Linked DNA regions of Homo sapiens. The protein of the gene in region 4 interacts with the protein of the main gene of each other region in a biochemical or structural test. Each region holds a gene or a part of one and is shown on either strand. Other genes may lie near its edges. The genes, in order: LRP1, ITGA5, RASSF6, GIPC1, DOCK4 and MAP2K2.

The links.
Region 1: the proteins of GIPC1 (region 4) and LRP1 form a complex in vitro, tested with the Homo sapiens proteins (one study listed by BioGRID).
Region 2: the proteins of GIPC1 (region 4) and ITGA5 form a complex in vitro, tested with the Homo sapiens proteins (one study listed by BioGRID).
Region 3: the proteins of GIPC1 (region 4) and RASSF6 interact in a test that uses a peptide from one of them, tested with the Homo sapiens proteins (one large-scale study listed by IntAct).
Region 5: the proteins of GIPC1 (region 4) and DOCK4 interact in a test that uses a peptide from one of them, tested with the Homo sapiens proteins (one large-scale study listed by IntAct).
Region 6: the proteins of GIPC1 (region 4) and MAP2K2 interact in a test that uses a peptide from one of them, tested with the Homo sapiens proteins (one large-scale study listed by IntAct).

Annotation. Positions count from the first base shown.
Region 1 is NC_000012.12:57,197,983-57,201,482, forward strand, and holds part of LRP1 (prolow-density lipoprotein receptor-related protein 1 preproprotein), read left to right. Parts: intron 1-173; coding exon 174-361; intron 362-482; coding exon 483-688; intron 689-1,229; coding exon 1,230-1,418; intron 1,419-1,894; coding exon 1,895-2,043; intron 2,044-2,459; coding exon 2,460-2,553; intron 2,554-2,716; coding exon 2,717-2,833; intron 2,834-3,051; coding exon 3,052-3,171; intron 3,172-3,500. UniProt on the Homo sapiens protein: Endocytic receptor involved in endocytosis and in phagocytosis of apoptotic cells. Required for early embryonic development. Involved in cellular lipid homeostasis.
Region 2 is NC_000012.12:54,402,267-54,405,766, forward strand, and holds part of ITGA5 (integrin alpha-5 precursor), read right to left. Parts: intron 3,451-3,500; coding exon 3,398-3,450; intron 3,109-3,397; coding exon 2,900-3,108; intron 2,629-2,899; coding exon 2,437-2,628; intron 2,308-2,436; exon of another isoform or gene 2,232-2,307; intron 2,210-2,231; coding exon 2,164-2,209; intron 1,981-2,163; coding exon 1,879-1,980; intron 1,701-1,878; coding exon 1,645-1,700; intron 1,514-1,644; coding exon 1,359-1,513; intron 1,059-1,358; coding exon 921-1,058; intron 785-920; coding exon 717-784; intron 65-716; coding exon 1-64.
Region 3 is NC_000004.12:73,578,937-73,582,436, reverse strand, and holds part of RASSF6 (ras association domain-containing protein 6), read left to right. Parts: intron 1-146; coding exon 147-248; intron 249-568; coding exon 569-620; intron 621-3,500.
Region 4 is NC_000019.10:14,486,128-14,489,627, reverse strand, and holds part of GIPC1 (PDZ domain-containing protein GIPC1), read left to right. Parts: intron 1-3,500. UniProt on the Homo sapiens protein: May be involved in G protein-linked signaling.
Region 5 is NC_000007.14:111,744,900-111,748,399, reverse strand, and holds part of DOCK4 (dedicator of cytokinesis protein 4), read left to right. Parts: intron 1-956; coding exon 957-1,133; intron 1,134-1,982; coding exon 1,983-2,066; intron 2,067-3,500. UniProt on the Homo sapiens protein: Functions as a guanine nucleotide exchange factor (GEF) that promotes the exchange of GDP to GTP, converting inactive GDP-bound small GTPases into their active GTP-bound form. Involved in regulation of adherens junction between cells.
Region 6 is NC_000019.10:4,100,123-4,103,622, reverse strand, and holds part of MAP2K2 (dual specificity mitogen-activated protein kinase kinase 2), read left to right. Parts: intron 1-416; exon of another isoform or gene 417-806; intron 807-1,169; coding exon 1,170-1,247; intron 1,248-2,342; coding exon 2,343-2,394; intron 2,395-2,479; coding exon 2,480-2,604; intron 2,605-3,500. UniProt on the Homo sapiens protein: Catalyzes the concomitant phosphorylation of a threonine and a tyrosine residue in a Thr-Glu-Tyr sequence located in MAP kinases. Activates the ERK1 and ERK2 MAP kinases.

The DNA.
Region 1 (3,500 bases), on a different chromosome or scaffold from region 4:
CACCTACACAGTGTCAGGCCCAGGACTGGGCATTTTACTTCCATGGTTCTCCCACCAGAGCTGTCAGAGGGAGCTCTACCCCATTTTACACGAGGGGAGGCTGAGCCTCACAGAGGCTTGCAGGTCCTCCCCCAGGTCACCCAGAGCTCTCCCTCCCCTGCCCCTTCCTGCAGGTCCTACACCGTACAGGCCTCAGCAACCCCGATGGGCTGGCTGTGGACTGGGTGGGTGGCAACCTGTACTGGTGCGACAAAGGCCGGGACACCATCGAGGTGTCCAAGCTCAATGGGGCCTATCGGACGGTGCTGGTCAGCTCTGGCCTCCGTGAGCCCAGGGCTCTGGTGGTGGATGTGCAGAATGGGTATGTGGCTGAGGAGGGTTGGGGGAGCCCCTGAAAGCAGCATCCAAGCCCAGCCTCCCTGCAGGCCACTGGTGCGATGGGTTACGGGATCTCCCAGGGCTCACTGCCTACCCATCGCCAGGTACCTGTACTGGACAGACTGGGGTGACCATTCACTGATCGGCCGCATCGGCATGGATGGGTCCAGCCGCAGCGTCATCGTGGACACCAAGATCACATGGCCCAATGGCCTGACGCTGGACTATGTCACTGAGCGCATCTACTGGGCCGACGCCCGCGAGGACTACATTGAATTTGCCAGCCTGGATGGCTCCAATCGCCACGTTGGTCAGTGTGCCAGTGAGGCTGTCCAGGCACAGCAGACTCAGTGGGGATGGAGGTCTGAAGCGACAGGGGATCAAGTTTTGGGGGCAAGAGTGGACATAAAAAGCGGAGGATATGGCCTGAGGACACCACTCACTGGGGTGTGGGGTTCAGAGCACCCCGGGGGCTTCCCCAGCCTGGCCACCACCCAGCTCCCTTGGGAAGGAAGAGGAGAGGCCCTTCCCTTGTATACACAGTTCTGGAGGACTGGCCCCAAGGAGGGTGGGGGTGGGAGGCCTGCGATTGAGAACTGCAGTGCTCCCCACTTCCCGAGGGGAGCCATACACTGGCAGGGCAGGAACTTGCCATGAGGCAGTCTAGGTTTGAACTCCAGCTCTGACACTTGTTAGCTGTGAGACCATGGGGGGTCTGTACCATGAACCATCTGTAACTGGGGCTGACACCCACCTCTCAGGGTGGTGGTAGGGCTTGAGGAGGTGGAGTGGGCCGGCACCCTGTCCGAGCTCCGGCTGACTGGCACTGTGCCTGCCCCTTGGCCCTGCAGTGCTGAGCCAGGACATCCCGCACATCTTTGCACTGACCCTGTTTGAGGACTACGTCTACTGGACCGACTGGGAAACAAAGTCCATTAACCGAGCCCACAAGACCACGGGCACCAACAAAACGCTCCTCATCAGCACGCTGCACCGGCCCATGGACCTGCATGTCTTCCATGCCCTGCGCCAGCCAGACGGTGAGCAGGCAAGGGGTGGGAGCAGGCGAACGGTGAGCCAGGCACCGGGGTCCCTGGGAGTTCCTGCTCATCCCTTCTCTAGCATTGACCAAGCCCTCCTGGCCAGACACTGGGAGACTCCAGGAGGGTCTAGACAGGGGATGGTCTGGCTCCCGGGAGCTTCAGCCCGGCCTGGATCCAGCCCTGGAGTCTGGCAGCAGCAAGTCCCTGAGGCCAGTCAAGTGGGGGTCTGGGTGCCCAGCCCCCAGAAGGAAGGCAGGCCGGCCCCTGGGAGGGAAGCACAGAGGAGGTGGGGAGCTGGCCTTCAGGCCTGGCCTGATCCTGGGACCTTAGAATCCTCTCCTATCTCCAGCTTCAGCTCCCTCCTAAAAGAGGCAGGGTTCAGACCCACCCGCCTCTGTCCAGGATAGAGTGAGTGAGGCAGCCTTTGGTAGGCCAGAAAATGTCACCATATTTCACGACGTTTTCTCTGGCAGTGCCCAATCACCCCTGCAAGGTCAACAATGGTGGCTGCAGCAACCTGTGCCTGCTGTCCCCCGGGGGAGGGCACAAATGTGCCTGCCCCACCAACTTCTACCTGGGCAGCGATGGGCGCACCTGTGTGTCCAACTGCACGGCTAGCCAGGTGAGGCTGTCCCCCAGACCCCATCACCAGTGCCCGCTCCCCAACCCCCAAATCCTCCTTGGACCCCAACACCTGCTCTGTCCTAATGTCCTCATGCATCTGGTTTTCCCACACTAACACCCCCACATTTCTTGCCTACCTCTTGTCTCCCCACAGCAATACTTTTACCCCCGTCACCTCACACAGACACCTCCACACCCTAACCTTGACCCTCCTTGCCATGCTTCAGTGCTGCCTTCCCCACCCTATCCCACGCAGCCCCATACCTGGCCTTTCCGAACTCACCATAGCCCAACCTGCCCCATAACACCCTGACCCCTGCCTCAACTTCTTTGAAACATCCAAGCCCCTCAAAAGAAAGACTTCTGAGTCCCCCAGACCCCCACCAACCCCTCTTGCCCCCACCTGCCCTCCAGTTTGTATGCAAGAACGACAAGTGCATCCCCTTCTGGTGGAAGTGTGACACCGAGGACGACTGCGGGGACCACTCAGACGAGCCCCCGGACTGCCGTGAGTGCCTGCTGGGGGTGACAGGAGGGCCCCCAGCTGTGTCGGAGGCCTGACTCCTGAGGCTTTGAATGGCCACTGGAGAGGCTGGGGCTGTGGTGCCCTGCAAGTGGACCTGGCCGTGTCCACCCCAGCCGCTCTGACTCTGAGCCTCCCTCTCTGGCAGCTGAGTTCAAGTGCCGGCCCGGACAGTTCCAGTGCTCCACAGGTATCTGCACAAACCCTGCCTTCATCTGCGATGGCGACAATGACTGCCAGGACAACAGTGACGAGGCCAACTGTGGTAAGGCGCTGCCCGCCCACCCTCCCTCCTTCCCCAGCATCTTCCCTGCCCCAGGATTTGGGGCTTTCAAGTGCAGGGAAGTTGCAGCCCACGGCAGCTTGCTCTCCAGGCTGGATTCCTATGGCTCAAGCCTGTGTCCTCCCTGCTGAGGGATGGGCACCCTCTCCCTGCCCCTGAGTCCTCCCTTCGCCACGAATCACCTCCTCCTCCCTCCACAGACATCCACGTCTGCTTGCCCAGTCAGTTCAAATGCACCAACACCAACCGCTGTATTCCCGGCATCTTCCGCTGCAATGGGCAGGACAACTGCGGAGATGGGGAGGATGAGAGGGACTGCCGTGAGTGTCAGAGGTGGTGGTGGGCCGGTGGTGGGAGATGACACGGAAGCAGGGCAGGCAGAATCTCCCCACAGCTTTGAGAGGCTCTCAAATAACTTTAGTAGATGGGCAACACAAATTATATTGGGTGTAACTTGCTTTGCTCATAAAAATCATCATGCATGATATAGAGACATAGAGATCCAGAAAACAAAAAGCACCAAAACTGGGGATAAACTGTTCCTTCCTCCGAAGAAGTTGCTGGCAGGACCAAGGCCAGGGCTTGGAAGAGAGAGAAGACAGTGATGGTGAACTGGAGTGGCAGGTGTAAGGGAGGGCCCTCATTCTCT
Region 2 (3,500 bases), on a different chromosome or scaffold from region 4:
ATTCTGGGCATGGAAAGTGAGGTTCAGGGCATTCTTGTCACCCAGGTACACATGGTTCTGCTCCCTGGAAGGGACACAGAGGGTAAGGGACATTGGTGAATTAATCCTCAAACCAGGACAAAGGACCATTATAAGAGTAGTAATACGAGGCCGGGTGTGGTGGCTCACACCTGTAATCCCAGCACTTTGGGAGGCTGAGGCGGGTGGATCACGAGGTCAGGAGTTCAAGACAAGCCTGGCCAAGATGATGAAACCCTGTCTCTACTAAAAATAATAATAAAAAAATTAGCCCGGCATGGTGGCAGGCACCTGTAATCCCAGCTACTTGGGACGCTGAGGCAGAGAATCGCTTGAACCTGGGAGGCGGAGGTTGCAGTGAGCCGAGATTGCGCCACTGCACTCCAGCCTGGGTGACAAGGGCATGACTCCGTCTCAAAAAAAAAAAAAGAGTAATAATAAAGTAACAATAGACACTGCTTACTGAGTTCTAACTCTATGGCAGGCACTAGGCTAGATTTTTTATGTAGATTATTTCATTTAATCTTTCCAAAAAGTCTGAGAAATAAATGCTACTATTCCCACTATACAGACAAAGGAGTTAAAGCTCAGAGCAGCTCAGCAACTTCCCAAGGCGACACAGCTAGTATGTCCCTAGCTGATTTTTTCAGGTGCCAGGTGCACCTGGAGCTCCCTAGCTTACCGTCAGCCCTACTTACCCAAACACTTCCAGCTGCAGGTCAGGCACACAGATGTTGTCTTCTCCACAGTCCAGCAAGATCTGAGCCTGGGGAGCAGGGCAGCCTTGAGAGGGGAAGTTTAGACCCATTCCTGGGCTGTAGGCTCTTCTCTTTCCATGGCCCTGCCCCCCCAATACCCAGGCCTCTGTCTTCCCAGGTCCCTTCTCCCTGCCCTGTCCTCACCTTGTCCTCTATCCGGCTCTTGCTCTGATAATGTAGGGCTGGCCTGAGGCCGTGGCTGTCCACTGGGGCTTGGGGGTCCAAGGAGAAGTTGAGAGCGATGTGAATCGGCGAGAGTTTGTCTCGAAATTCTGACTCGTTCTGGGGCCAGAGGAGAGAGTTCACGGAGTCAGGGGACTCTGGAGACTTAGTGGCCCTGCTCCTCAGCCTCTCTCATCTCCCTTTGTCTGCTTAGGGCCCAATTCCGACCATCCTCATTGTTTCAGAGGCCCTGGCAGCCTGCTTCCCAGCTCCTCTGACAGAAGGTCTCCCTTTCTCAGCCCCTACAAGAGTCCCAAGCCCTTCACTGGAGTCCCCCAGTCTTTTTCCCTTCAGGAGGTGCCCTCAGTTCTGTGTGGCCACCCTCCCTGGCCAGTCCACACCCCGCCCTCTGGGCCATACCCTGAGGTAGATCTTCATCTCTCTGCAATCCTCTCGAGCCCCATTCTGGATGAGCAGGGTCTGGGTCAGGGTTGCCTGCCTGGAGGCCAGGAACAGTGCCCGCCGTACCCCTCCCTTCTGCTTCTGCCAGTCCAGCTGAAGTTCCACTGTGAAACCTGAAGCCAGGGACATATAAAGGGAAACTGCCTGTCTTTCCTCATCTTTTCAGAGAGAAGAAATGTCCCCAGGTCCCCAGTCCCTTCATTCTCTGTCCTAGGGCCTGAGAGATCCAGGCAGTCTCCCTCACCAATGGAGTCAGCAACGTGTTTTCCAGAAGCATTGAGGCAGAAGCTAAGGTTGATGCTGGAGAGAGACCAAGAAGAAAGCTGGTGAATCCAACTGGAACAGACATCCTATCCTCTACCTATCTCCCAGCCAGACCCAGACTAGGACACCACCATTTTCCCCTTTTTAAGGCAGACTTGGTGCCCCTGCCCACTCCCAGGCTCAGGTCTCTGCAATTTCCTGGGCACCAGCTCACCAGGCCACAGGGTTCCCCTCTAAGCTGCAGCTCCGCTCCTCTGGGTTGAACATGGCGGGGAAGATGGTGAGGGAGGCACTAGCGGACACGATGGGGCGGCCCCTGCCAAGAGTGAATGTGGGGTCAATAGAATTAGGACTCCTCTGTAACCTGGACACAGGAAACTGATGCCCAAGCGCCAGAATGTGTGTCCTCTGCATTGATTTTCCCAACCTCAGCTCTGTTGAGAAATTTCCAGTTCCAGTCCACCCAGGTTGTCCCCTCATCTCCCTTTGGAGCTCATACCTGTATACCACAGCCTTGTCCACACCAAAGGACCCCACAATCAGATCTGTAAGAAGTCAAGAAATCACCTCTTACAGCAAGCCCCAGATCAGGATCCTTTCTTCCTAACCCCTCCTGGTTTCAACGCTCAGGGAGGTTGAAGTGAGAAGACAGCGCCCTCTGTTGGAATTAGCCAGAACTGCACCCAGGAACTTAAGGAAAGGTGCAGAAGAGAGAGTAGGGGTCAGTGACCAGGGAATTTTAAGGTGAAAAGGGGCCTCAGGCACAACTCACCAGGATATCCATTGCCATCCAGGTCTCGGCCTCCTCGAAGGGCAGAGCCAAAGAAGTCTGGGGTGTGGCTGGCTGCCCACAGGGGCTGCAGAACCTGGGAAGGCTTAGAGCCCAGCCCTCCTGGGCCCCCAGGAAATACAAACACTACTCCCTGCTGGGTCTCCCCACCAAAGGGAGCCCCGATGGCCACATCTGGAAGACACAGAACACACACTAGTCAGCAGGCCAGGAATCCATGGGCTCTAATCTCTACTACCAGACCCCAGGACCTAGGATCCTATTTTTTCCCATCTGTCAGTCCCTATATTCTAATCTTCAAATCCCAAGACCCAGACAGTGGGATTTTAACCCCTCGGGAAGTCGTGGAGGTCTGGGTATCTTAGCTGACAGATGCCCTCTCCCCAAATCCCTTCTGACTTGGGCCCCTGCCTCCTCTTTCACTCTCTGAGCCCATGGTACTCACCATTGTAGCCATCCTGGTCCAGGTCCCCCAGGGGGGTCAAGGAGCTGCCAAATCGGCCAAACTCATCATGGCCAGTGAGGGTAAGGGTGGGCGTGGGCTCTATGCCGGCTGGGTGCTGCAGGTAGACGTAGACCCTGCCCACCTCCTGAGGCCGCCCGTCAGGGGTCCGATCCATGAGCAGGGGTGCCCCCACCAGCAAGTCATCCAGCCTGAGGGGAAGGGCAAACCCAGGCATCTCGATACCCTGTCTTGCCACCCCACCCCAATCCTAGTGCTAGAAATCCCGGACACTCTGAATTCCATCACGTCAGAAGACCTGAGGTCTCTGATCATCAGCTCTCAGCTCTTTCCTTGTCCCTGAGCAAGGGGAATGCAGGTATGAGCGAGAGTCTAGAGAAAAAGCCCTGGAGAAACTCTCCTTGCATTTTCTGTCCCATTCCCACTCTTCCCTCTTGGTTCTGGGAGGGTATCACAGTGCGCTCATTTCCCACCACTCACCCGTCCCCATTGACGTCTGTGGCGGCCACTGCATAGCCAAAGTAGGAGGCCATCTGGGGAGGACAAAGGGGCAGCGCTGGGTCAGAACTAGAAGGTTCAATCC
Region 3 (3,500 bases), on a different chromosome or scaffold from region 4:
ACAAAGAAAAACAAACAAAAACAAAACAAATTTTTTAAATTAATGACCTTGGATTTTTTTTGCCCTATAAGAAGATTATGTTCAAGATATTGAATACCCTTAATATAATATAATTTTAAAGACTTATGTGACAATTCTTTTTCTAGACATCAATTTTCATTCCAGCCTTTGAATCAGAAACTAAGGTCAGAGTAAACAGTAACATGAGAACTGAAGAAGTAATAAAGCAACTTCTCCAAAAATTTAAGGTAACCTTTATCACTTAACTGAGCTATAAATATATTATATATAATTCAACTATAAACACACAAATCCACTCTTCTGAAACAGATCTATAAAGGTGTAAATCTAAATTGGATGTTGAGCACTGAAAGATTCTTTCCTTTGTATAACACCTTTTAGTAACTATCCCTTGAAAAATTATATAATTCCCATAAGAGCAGAGAAGATTTTATGTCTAAAAGTGAAAAATGGAAGAGAGAAAACAGACATGATTTGGGTCTGGTCAGGTTAGAAAACATCATATAACAACAAAGAATTTATATTTGTTCATTTTTTCCCTTGACAGATTGAAAATAGTCCCCAGGATTTTGCTCTTCACATTATTTTTGCAACAGGAGGTAAGAAAGCTTGATCACACTTTTTACCTGACTCTAGAGTGCTACAGTTTGCTGCCCAGGGGGAAGGCAGAAGAACAGTTTGCCTCATTCTGTGGAGAAAGGGGAGGAATGGGTAGGAGAAAAGGAAGGAGTGGTCTTTAGAACATTATCTATAGTCCACAATTTTAAAGAAAGATAACTTAAGAATAAGGTATCCCTGAAGGGTTGATTATATGAAAGAGTTTGCTTGTTGGCCAGACATTAAATTATCTAAATGGAGATCAAAACCCTCTGGAACTGTTTCGGCACTTTTGTCTTTGCTCACCTCTGTAACTTTCTTTTTGGCTTTCCTTTCTGAGTGTTGCTCTTAGAGGAGTCATGATTGCATACCTGTTCTCTCTGACATTGATATTGCCTCTTTTTTAGCACAGGGTCTGACACATTGCGGGAGTGCTATCTCTTCCTCAGTAGAGATGCATATTCAGAACTTCGTGGTGAGGGGTGAAAGGTTAGAAGCAGAACATTGGGAAGGCGCTGTAAGTGGGATGCTAGGAGCATAATAGAGAGAATAGAGAAAACTTAAAGTGATACTGAAATGAAAGTTTTTAAAACTTCACAAATGAAAAATTTTATATATCAATTTGTAGAAAAAACTCATGCTATAATTTAAGTGTCAGAATGTTCAAGCCAGAAATTTATTAGAATAAAATAATACATTTTGATGCCAGAACACCTTAAGAAAATGAAAGCTGTATCTCTAAACATATATAAAATTAAAGTTCTTATAATTGAAAGCTTAAAGATCTATAATTAAAGACTTAAACGTTAGACCTAAAACCATAAAAACCCTAGAAGAAAACCTAGGCATTACCATTCAGGACATAGGCATGGGCAAGGACTTCATGTCTAAAACACCAAAAGCAATGGCAACAAAAGCCAAAATTGACAAATGGGATCTCATTAAACTAAAGAGCTTCTGCACAGCAAAAGAAACTACCATCAGAGTGAACAGGCAACCTACAAAATGGGAGGAAATTTTCGCAACCTACTCATCTGACAAAGAGCTAATATCCAGAATCTACAATGAACTCAAACAAATTTACAAGAAAAAAACAAACAACCCCATCAAAAAGTGGGCAAAGGACATGAATAGACACTTCTCAAAAGAAGACATTTATGCAGCCAAAAAACACATGAAAAAATGCTCACCATCACTGGCCATCAGAGAAATGCAAATCAAAACCACAATGAGATACCATCTCACACCAGTTAGAATGGCAATCATTAAAAAGTCAGGAAACAACAGGTACTGGAGAGGATGTGGAGAAATAGGAACACTTTTACACTGTTTGTGGGACTGTAAACTAGTTCAACCATTGTGGAAGTCAGTGTGGCGATTCCTCAGGGATCTAGAACTAGAAATACCATTTGACCCAGCCATCCCATTACTGGGTATATACCCAAAGGACTATAAATCATGCTGCTATAAAGACACATGCACACGTATGTTTATTGCGGCATTATTCACAATAGCAAAGACTTGGAAGCAACCCAAATGTCCAACAATGATAGACTGGATTAAGAAAATGTGGCACATATACACCATGGAATACTATGCATCCATAAAAAATGATGAGTTCATGTCCTTTGTAGGGACATGGATGAAATTGGAAATCATCATTCTTAGTAAACTATCGCAAGAACAAAAAACCAAACACCGCATATTCTCACTCATAGGTGGGAATTGAACAATGAGAACACATGGACACAGGAAGGGGAACATCACACTCTGGGGACTGTTGTGGGGTCGGGGGAGGGGGGAGGGATAGCATTAGGAGATACACCTAATGCTAGATGACGAGTTAGTGGGTGCAGCACACCAGCATGGCACATGTATAGATATGTAACTAACCTGCACATTGTGCACATGTACCCTAAAACTTAAAGTATAATAATAATAAAAATAAAATAAAATAAAATAAAGATCTATTTTTTGGAAAATTCTAAGGACACATATATATTCATATTCTAGTTGTTTAGGAAAGAAAGAAAACCAAAAGATATAAAATAAATGGTAGCAATACTGGACTGTGTAACAATTTAAAAGATACAAATAGTAGATTACAAAGAATATTGTCAATGTACTCCAAAGATTAATAACTATAATACCAATAATTTCCTACAAAATGGTAACAAAACAACAGACAATCCGATAAAAATAGAAAAAAGCATGAAAATACAATTGAAAGGAAAAACCATAATAACCAGTTAAATAGTTTTAGAAAAGTCTTAAATTCAGTGAAATGCAAGTAGCTAAGGAAATGCAAGCTCAAGCCACACCGTAATATTATCTTGCACTTCTCAGATTGGCAAAATGCTTTAAAATGATTCTACCCATGGCTGGCATGCATCAGGGTAAAAAGATATTTTTATGCAACACTAGTGAAAATATGACTTTCTTCTTATTGGAATTTATTCTTGCAATATTTATTAAAATTTACAGTATATATGTCCTTTAACTTGACCATTCCATTTGTGAGAATCTATCCCACAAAAATATAAGCACTAGTGCCTACAGATTTATGTGTAACACTGTTTATAAGGACAAAAAGCTAAAGACAAAGTTACTCATCCTAGGGAAATGATTAAATAAGTGATTGTTAGGCTGCCATTGAATGGAATGAGTAGATTTATGCCAATAGAATGGAGGGAGTTCCATAATATATTTTAAGTGAGAAATGCAAGATGCCTAAAGGTATATATAAAAGATCCCATTTTTTAAACAGTTACAAGCTCCCATTTAAGTATGTGGTATATATGGTCTTATGACTAGGGAGAAAGGTATGGAGTGATAAATACAAAACCATTGAGATAGATTACCTGGTGGGGGATTGGGGAAAT
Region 4 (3,500 bases):
AGCCATTATTTATACTCATTCCAAGGCTTCTAACATGATGATACTATTTCCTCGTATTTCCACCATTCCAATATTTTTCTGTTGTCCACTAGTCGCCATCTCCACACATTCATCTATCACAAGGTTCATAAAGGGATCAAATCCCCGCAATATTCCTTGGACATGTCTGCCACCATTTAATTTCAATGAAAACTTCTTGTCCGTAAATTTTTTCAACTCAGGAGGGTGAGCTTTGCTCATGGTGTATACTCCATGGGCTCACAGATGCCTTGGAACAGAACGCACGGCTTCCCTCACGCTACCGCGGTAGGCCCAGCATCTTGTGCCTGGCGTCATCGACCTCGTTAGCCAATCGATTGTTCGAGCATGAGTTTCAATGGGGCAAACCTTATCCAAACCATAGCAGGCTGGGTGTGGTAGCTCATGCCTATAATCCCAGCACTTTGGAAGGCCAAGGCGGGAGGATTGCTTGAGCCCAGGAGTTCAGGACCAATCTGGGCAACGTAGTGAGACCCGTCTCTACAAAAAATAAAAATTAGCTGGGCATGGCTGTGAACACCTGTAGTCTCAGCTATTCAGGAGGTTGAGACAGGAGGATTGCTTGAGCCCAGGAATTTGAGGCTGTAGTGAGCTGTGATCACATCACTCCACTGCAGCCTGGACGACAGAGTGAGACCCCATTAAAAAAAAAAAATCAGGAAAACATAGCAACCTGTTACCTCCCTGCCCTCATGTTCTCACTATCCCCCCTTCACTCACTGTTCCAACCCCCCAGGCCTCCTCACTGTTCCTCAAACATGCCAATTGCATGCCCAGTTCAGGGCTTGGCTTTTCTTTCTTTTTTTTTTTTTTGTTTAGACCGAGTCTCGCTCTGTCGCCCAGGCTGGAGTGCAATGGCGTGATCTCAGCTCACTGCAACCTCAGCCTCAGGAGTAGCTGGGATTACAAGCATGCACCACTACGCCCAGCTAATTTTTGTGTTTTTAGTAGAGATGAGGTTTGCATGCACCACCATACCTGGCTAATTTTTGTATTTTTAGTAGAGACGGGGTTTCACCATGTTGGTCAGGCTGGCCTCAAACTCCTGACCTCATGATCCGCCTGCCTTGGCCTTCCAAAGTGCTGGGATTACAGGCATGAGCCACCGCGCCTGGCTAGGGCTTTTCTTTGTTTTTTTGAGATGGAGTCTCGGTTTGTCACCCAGGCTGGAGTGCAGTGGTGTGATCTCGGCTCACTGCAACCTCCGCCTCCTGCATTCAAGTGATTCTCCCACCTCAGCTTCCCGAGTAGCTGGGATCACAGGTGTGCACCACCACGCCCACCTGTGTATTGTATTTTTAGTAGAGATGGGGTTTTGCCATGTAGGCCAGGCTGGTCTCAAACTGCTGACCTCATGTGATCCGTCAACCTCAACCTCCCAAAGTGCTGGGATTACAGGCTTGAGCCACCATGCCCAGCCCCAGCTCAGGGCCTTTCTACTGGCTGTTCTCTCTACTTGGGACGTTCTTGCCCCAAATCATTGCATGAATGCTTCCTCCTGTGGTTCAGGTCTCAAGTTCAGCTTCACGTGCTCAGAGACGCCCTCACTGATCTTGTCTATAGAACTTGTCTTGCTTTGTCTCCATATCACTATTAAAAATTATATGAGGCTGGGCACAGTGGCTCATGCCTATAATCCCAGCTCGTTAGGAGTCCATGGCAGGAGGATTACTTGAGCCCAGGAGTTTGAGACCAGCCGGGACAACATAGCAAGACCCTGTCTCTAAAAAATAAAAATAAAAAAATTAGCAGGGCATGGTGGCAAGCACCTGTGGTCCCAGCTACTCAAGAGGCTGGGGCGGGAGGATCACTTGAGCCCAGGAGGGCAAGGGTGCAGTGAGCTCTGATTGCACCACTGCACCTCAGCCTTGGCAACACAGCAAGACTCTGTCAAAAAAAAAAAGGAAAATAAAGGAAAAAATTTATATTAGACATTTACACATTTCCCTGCTCCCTGTGCATTTCCTCTTCCGGACTGTCCACTTCTGGAGGTCATGTGCAGAGCCCCAGCTAGCCTATATAGCATCTGTGAGTGAATTAGAAAGACATCTCTTCGGCCGGGTGCAGTGACTCATGCCTGTAATCCCAGCACTTTGGGAGGCTGAGGCGAGCGAATCACGAGGTCAGGAGTTCGAGACCAGCCTGGCCAACGTAGTGAAACTCCGTCTCTACTAAAAACACAAAAAAAATTAGCCGGGCATGGTGGCGTGCACCTGTAGTCCCAGCTACCTGGGAGGCTGAGGCAGGAGAATTGCTGGAACCTGGGAGGCGGAGCTTGCAGTGAGCCAAGATTGCACCACTGCACTCCAGCCTGGGCAACACAGAACAGACTCTGTCTCAAAAAAAAAAAAAGAAAGAAAGAAAAAAAAGAAAAAAAGAAAGGCATCTCTTCCTCCTGGCAGACACCACACCAAGAAATATAGCTTGGCAGGCAGTGCACAGACCGAATTTCAGTCCTACTTGCCACCTTGGTCTAGTAATTTTGCACAGTACACAACTTGTGTAACTGAACATGGTGGCCCTAGTCAGGGATCTTGCTTTTTTTATTGAAGACAGTATCTAAAATGGTGCACAGAATACAGTAAGTACTAAAAAGAAAAAAAAAATTGTTTGAAGGGAGGGGAGAATGGAGAAAGAGAGAAATAAAGAAGCGGGCCGGGCGCGGTGGCTCATGCCTGTAATCCCAGCACTTCAAGAGGCTGAGGCGGGTGGATCACTTGAGGTCAGGAGTCTTCTGTAGTCACAGCTACTTGGGAGGTTGAGGCAGGTGAATCGCTTGAACCCAGGAGGCGGAGGTTGCAGTGAGCTGAGATCGCACCACTGCACTGCTGCTTGGGTGACAGAGCAAGACTCTGTCTCAAAAAAAAAAAAAAAAAGAAAGAAAGAAAGCAAGAAAGAAACAGAAAAAAAATGTATGTGGTGTAGAAAACAACCCCAAAAGTCTTAGTGGCTGAATTCAGCAAAGATTTGCTTTTTCTTCCTGCTACACTTCCATTGCGGCTCAGCAGGGGGCACCATTCACCGTAGTCATTCAGGGCCCGGCCTCATAGAGTCGCCACCATATCAAATGTGGCTCATCACCCTGCCTGGGAAAGATAGATCTCTGGAGGCTCCAGCACTTAAATGCCTCAGCCCAGAAATGTCATGTGCCACTTCCTCTCACAACCTATTTGCCAGAAATAATCATTTATCTGCCCAGTCACAAGGAGGCCAGGAAGTGCCATCCACCTGTTTGGTCCAAAGGGGGAGAGTCAGAAATTTTTTGCACACAGTGTTAGTGACTGTGGCTGAGAGGAAAATAGAAGCGTAGTCGCTTTCAGCCTCCATTTTCTCATCTGTTCAATGGGCATAATTGTAGCATAACGTGATCCCTGTGTTACAGTGTGGTGTGAGGGTTAAGGAAGGTCACAGGCCGGGCACGGTGGCCCATACCTGTCATGCCAGAGCTTTGGGAGGCCAAA
Region 5 (3,500 bases), on a different chromosome or scaffold from region 4:
CTTATATACCCTGAACACGTGCTTTTTGATGGTTACACATGTTACAAAATCTTCTATGTTCTTGCTTATCTTCCCTTCTCTTTGTCTTTGATGAATGTTCAGTCTTCATATTCTAGGATTTTTCAGTGTTGGTTTAAGATGATCCAAGTGACCTTTAAAAACTCTAATTTGTTTCCTTGCCTGAATGAACCAATATTTAAATATGCTAATTGTAGTCCTGAATTACTTGATTGCTGAGAGCTTGGCAGACCTTCTCTTCAAGGCAATAGCAGTCCCAATGACATACATTTGAAGAGCACTTTTATCATTTTCACAATTAGGTCCTCCATACAGCCTGGAATTTTTAAGTCATTATGATTCTATTTGGCTCTCCAACAAATAGATCCTGCAGTATATATTATCTTGTTTTCTATAATTCCCAACTGTGTGCCATCCTGTGCCACCTTATGGTGCTGTTATATATATATATGAGGTTCATGTGGCATATGTCCCATCTTCCCAACTGGGCTGAAAGCTCCTTGACATCAGAGGATCCATAAATGCATCTTTATATCTCCCATGGTGCTTTGTATCAAATAAGCATGAGAAAGGGGATAATATTCAGGGTCTCTGAATATTTAACCCTTCAAAAGAAAAAAAAAACTAGTTTTAAAAGACATGAGATGCTTGGATATTATTTTAAGGATTAAATTGGTTGTTGCAGTGCTAATGTAGAATTGATGATTATCCAAACCACATTTCAATGAATAAGTATAATTACCTGCCCTTTCCAAACCTTGCTAATGAACATCCCACTTGACTTCCACATCCTTGTCTATTCTACGGAATGGCCCCTGGTAGAGATATTGATGGAAGCCAAGGGGGAGCACAGATAATTCAGAACATGGATAAACTACTTTGTCTTTCTTCTTGAATGTCACAAATTCAATATATATTTATGTTCATTTGCTTCTCAGGTAGAAATGAGTCCTCTGGAAAATGCAATTGAAGTGCTAGAAAATAAGAATCAGCAGCTGAAGACTCTGATTAGTCAGTGTCAGACAAGACAGATGCAGAATATTAATCCCCTGACTATGTGCCTGAATGGAGTTATAGATGCTGCAGTTAATGGTGGCGTTTCCAGGTATCAAGAGGTAAGGATTAGGTATTGTTGTTTCAGAGAAAGTTTTCAATTGTGACTTCTTAGGGTTTCATGAATCTTTTTTCAGACTATGTACCCATATCAGCACGCAAACATAGGGCTGCGATTGACACAGAGTCCTTTGTTAAATAGAGCAAACATACAGTCATTTGTAATTGCCCAGTAACTCCATTTTCCCAACATGTTATATTTGGATAATAAAAATGTGTGTGTGTGTGTTCATTCTTGCATGAATAAAAGTAGAAAGGACATTAGGACTGTTTAATAAATATCCGTCTAAAATAATTTCTCTAAGCAAAGAAGTTCATGGGCATAGAAAAGTCTGATCTGGGCTGGGCTCAGTGGCTCACACCTGTAATCCCAGCACTTTGGTTTGAGACCAGCTTGAGCAACATAGGAAGATCTTATCTCTTATTTAAAAAAAAAAAAAAAAAAAAAAAAAAAGATAAGACCGATCTTGCTTAGATGATACTTTAAGTGGACCTTTCATCTGCTCTCTTAAACAGAAAGATATAATACCCTGGAAGGTAAGGCCACCATCTAGGTCACACTGAATCTTAAGGCAGTTTGTTTTAGGATACAAGCCATATAGCTTACTGATTTGGGCTTGTTCTTTATTTTAGCAAGGGTACTTATTGTACAATCACTGATCTTCCTTTAACAATTCTTTCCTTATGTTCCCATTCTGACCAACCACCTACACTAGTAATCAGCCCATCTGTCCCAAAATGTGGTTTGTAATGGTGTCATTTCCATAAAGATGCCAGGTCTTTAAAAACAACTTGTCTTTGACTTGCCTTGTACTCCACTAAAGTAGACTGATTCTCCTTTCCCTTACTAGGCATTCTTTGTCAAAGAATATATCTTAAGTCACCCTGAAGATGGGGAGAAAATTGCACGATTAAGAGAGCTGATGCTTGAGCAGGTAAGGGAAGCAGAAGCCAACCCCCTTCTATTTTGCCTGGATATGTGCTTGCTTACCTAGAGCCCCCTCTGCATGGTTTCCTGCATCAGTGGTCTAACAGAAGCTGGCAAGCAAGGGTGACAGATTCCTGTAATATATCCCAGCTTGCTAATTTCTACTTCTTCTTCCCACTCCGATGCAAAAATTAATTTAACAATGAGTAGACTATGGCAGCCAGTTACAGGTTGAGTATCCTTTATCCAAAATACTTGGGACCATAAGTGTTTCAGATTTTGAAATATTTGCATATACATAAGAGATATCTTGGGGGAGGGACCCAAGTCAAATAACAAAATTTATTATTTCATATATATCTTATACACATAGCCTGAAGGTCATTTTATATAATATTTTAATAATTTTGTGCATGAAGTTTCGACTGCAACCCATCACGTGAGGTTGGGTGTGGAATTTTCCACTTGTGGGATGTTGGCATTCAAAAGGCTTCAAATTTTGGAGGATTTCTGATTTTCAGTTTTTGTATTAGGGATGTTCAACCTGTGAAACAAACAACTTCATGTGGTCTCTTAAAACATTCTTTGAATGTTCTCTTCCTAGAGACTTGCTGTAGGCTTGATGCCAACTTTTTTTTTTTTTTTTTTTTTTTTTTTAAGACGGAGTCTCCCTCTGTCACCCAGGCTGGAGTGCAGTGGCATGATCTCTGCTCACTGCAAGCTCCGCCTCCTGGGTTCACGCCATTCTCCTGCCTCAGCCTCCCAAGTAGCTGGGACCACAAGTGCCCGCCACCACACCTGGCTAATTTTTTTTGCATTTTTAGTAGAGACGGGGTTTCACTGTGTTAGCCAGGATGGTCTCGATCTCCTGACCTTGTGATCCACCCGCCTCAGCCTCCCAAAGTGCTGGGATTACAGGCGTGAGCCACCGCGCCTGGCCGATGCCAACTTTTCACTCAAAATTCTGTGCTCAGAAAAGTTCAGGCCAACTCCAAATATGAGGCATGAATGAAATTTTTACTTAAGCATTGTAATAAGGAAGTGGGCAATCAGTAGATCTTGCTTTAAAGCAGTGTCATATTTTGCAAAGTAAACCTATAGGTTACATGATATGGACAAAACTACATACAACTCATCATTTTCTACCCCCAGAGAAGCGTGGTTTATTTATTTGGAACCATCAAGTACAAAGAACTGGAATGAGTAATCTGTTGCCTACTGTGTCCCTATTGATAGCCTGAAATGGTTTGAAAACCTCTGAGGTAGGAGACATGGTTGGAAGCCTGTGTTAAACAGGAAATAAAGACATTTGCTTCCTGTGAAAAGTGGAATATGTGTGATGAAACATGACAAAGGCATTTCTTTCTACCCAATAATGCCAAATTAATAAGTAAAGCATGCTCTTTGGATTAGAAAATGAGGTCGTGTCTGGTTTTCATCC
Region 6 (3,500 bases), about 10 Mb from region 4:
ATCCCAGGGAAGGCTGGGCTTTTGCAGGAGTCCTGGAGCAGCATGGTGGGGAAATCCAGGCTCCCCAGCCAGCCTCTCCAGGCTCCTCCAGCCCGCCCTCTCTAGCCTCAGTTCCACTTTCCTCTCTGCTGAGCACAGAAGAGACGCACGCCAGACGGTGGCAGTGGGAACTTGGCCTGTCACCCCTGCTGTCCTGGGGGTGGCCTGGCAGGTGTGTCCGGAGCCTCTGCCTCTGAAGAGGCACCTTGGGTGGCTCCCAGTGCCTGGGGTTTTGGCATTTGGGGGTTTTGGTCCCCAGGTTTGTTGCCAGGCAGCCTTGGGCAAGACATGGAATTTCTGTTTCATCATTTATGACATGGATGTGGGGCCACACCCGGGGACCAGCCTACCCATGATGACTCGTTTCCAGGCCCTCCGCAGGATGCCCGGCACAGTGGCGAGGAGACCACAGGCTGTGGGGAGGGGCCGAGGTTACCGTCACCTGGGCTGGCGTCACTGGGATCCCTCCTGCAGTCCATGCACCCCCTGGCCCCTGGTCCTACTCGGCCTGGCCTTTCTGCCCTAGGTGGCAGGGACAGGCGCAGGGCAGACGCCCAGCAGTGGAGCCGCAGGGCTTGGCGAGGGAGCCCCCTGGGGGTCTGGACGGGCACACAGCGACCCGCCGCCTCCTCCCACGCGGGGCAGCACCCGCGTCTCCTCCGCGCCCTCACCCTCCCCTTCCCTTCGTGTGCTGGGAAGAGGACGCAGGCCCAAGACGCTGGTCTCCAGCCTGGCCGCCTCCCGTGGCGCACAGACAAGCCCACCACGTAGGCTGCAGGGAGTGCGGGCCCCACAGCTGCCTGAGCCCCCGGCCGCGGCTTGGGCTGGCCCGGAGCAGAGCCTCTGCCGTGGCGACCTCAGGAGGGCCGAGTCACGCAACTGATTCGAGGATGGGACGGGAGGCGGGGGAACCCTGGGCCCTGTTCCTTCCCCACCTTGTGGGTGGGTGTTCAGACCCAAAGGCAGAACTGTCAGAAGACGCCCTGCCCTTGGCCCGTGGGTGGAGTTGGGCTCCGGCCCCTGCTTCCCGTCAGGAGGCAGACCACCCCCTCGCCGGGAGTGGGGGGACGCATCCGTGGCTTCCCGGCCACCTGCGCAGAGCCTGCACTCACTCCTTGTGTGCCCTCTAGGACGGCGGCTCCCTGGACCAGGTGCTGAAAGAGGCCAAGAGGATTCCCGAGGAGATCCTGGGGAAAGTCAGCATCGCGGTGAGTCCACCGCAGACCCACATCGCGCCCCCACCGCACTCTGCACGGACCTCTTCCACACGGCCAGGGTTCCGGGAGCCACTCACAGTGTGGTGGGGGTTAGGGTGGCCCCTGCAGAAAGAGAGTGGCCAAGGCTGTGCCCACCTGCTGTGGAGCTTGAACAAGTGACGTCCCTTTTGGGGCCTGAGGTCACCATCTGCCAAGTGAAGACGTTATAGGTCCCTCTTCACTCTTAGTATCCTCTGTTTGCCACACTGGTCCCCTCTGCCCCTCGTGGCAGGGGGATGTTGGCAGCTGGCACGTTGCAGGGGACAGGAGCTTGTTGAAAGGGAGACTCTGGGGTGGGATGTGGGACGCCAGGACCTCCAGACACACTCACCATTGCTGTTAGAAATGTCACCGGGGCCAAGGGCGTCTCTGCTGCCCGGTCTCCAGCACAGCTGCTCCGTAGAGCCGTGTGGTTTCAGCAGACCGTGCGTGTTGCTTCTTGGAGCTTGCACCTTGTCCATAGCAGGGGCCGAGTCCCGCCTGCCCATACCAGTGTTGGATTAAGACACAGGACGCATGCTGCCAGACACGCGTTTCCGAGTTGAAAGCTGCCGTCACACTGCCTGTGCTGCTTGCTTCACTTCTCGGGATGCTGCTTCCAGGGCGGGCCTGGGGGAAACATCGTCCTTCCCAGGCACCCTTAGCCCGTCCCATCTGGGGGCCCTTAGCACAGTCCCTGGGACCCCAGATGCTGCCTTTCAGGCTGATGTGGGCAAACTCGGCAGCCCAGCCTACTCCCGGGCCATGGGCCACCATCTCAGCTTCCCTGGGGCTAAGCCGTGTGCTCTGAATCAAAGGCAGTAGTGGCATCGGCGGCACTGCGGCCATGGGAACCGGGGTTGACTTGCACACGCCAGCACAGGGCTGTCAGCACTGTCTCGTCTCTGGCCTCGCTTGCTCCACCCCAGCGAGCTCCTCACAGCCTGAAATGGTTCCTGCCGCAGCTCCCTCGCTCCAGCTCTGACTGCTCAGCTCTGACCCCCGGGCTCGGTCAGGAGCTAAGCCCTGGTGGCCTTGTCCCGTGACTCCCTCCGCGCTCCCCTGCAGGTTCTCCGGGGCTTGGCGTACCTCCGAGAGAAGCACCAGATCATGCACCGAGGTAAGGCCCAGCCCGCCCTCCCCAGAGCCCCGGGGGCCGGCAGGCAACTGTTGGGCGCCCCTCACCCGCAGCCTGCCGCCTCCAGATGTGAAGCCCTCCAACATCCTCGTGAACTCTAGAGGGGAGATCAAGCTGTGTGACTTCGGGGTGAGCGGCCAGCTCATCGACTCCATGGCCAACTCCTTCGTGGGCACGCGCTCCTACATGGCTGTGAGTCCCCGCTGGCTCTCCCCTCCAGCTCTCCTCCCTGCTGCTCTCCCCCAAGCTCTCCCCACCCAGCTCTGCCAGCCAGCTCTCCCCCTCAGCTCTCACCCCCATGTCTCCTGCGCAGCTGTCCCTCCCAGTTCTCCTGCGCAGCTCTCCCCGCCTCCCACGAGGCTTTCCCAACTATTTCGTGGGCACACACTCCTACATGGCTGTTAGCACCCCCGGGACAGTCCCACCCCAGCTGCACCCTCCCCTTCATCAGCTCTCCCCACTTGCCACAAGGCACGTCTAAAGCTGGTGCCTCCTGGGAGCCTGCTTTTCGGATTCCCCTTGCTCTTTATTTTTTATTTGTTAATTTACTAATCTTTTGTAGACACGGGGTCTCGCTGTATTGCCCAGGCTGCTCATGAACTCCTGGACTCAAGTGACCTTCTTTCCTCAGCCTCCCAAAGTGCTGGGATTCCACTAGCAGTGAGCCTGAGCCACCACGCCCGGCCAGATCTCCCCTTCCTGTTGGAATTCTCTCTTAGGTTTTTGTCTCTAGCAGTGCCTACCAGGTTTCTTTCTTTTTTTTTTTTTTTTTTTTTTTTTTGAGACAGAGTCTTGCTCTGTCACCCAGGCTGGAGTGCAATGGCACAATCTTGGCTCATTGCAACCTCCGCCTCCCACCCGGGAGCAATTCTCCTGCCTCAGCCTTCCAAGCAGCTGGGGCTACAGGCATGTGCCACCACAGCTGGGTAATTTGGTTTTTGTTTTTGTTGTTGTTGTTGTTTTTTGAGACACAGTCTCACACTCTCACCCAGGCTGGAGTGCAGTGGCGCCATCTCCGCTCACTGCAAGCTCCGCCTCCCGGATTCACACCATTCTCCTGCCTCAGCCTCCCGAGTAGCTGGGACTAC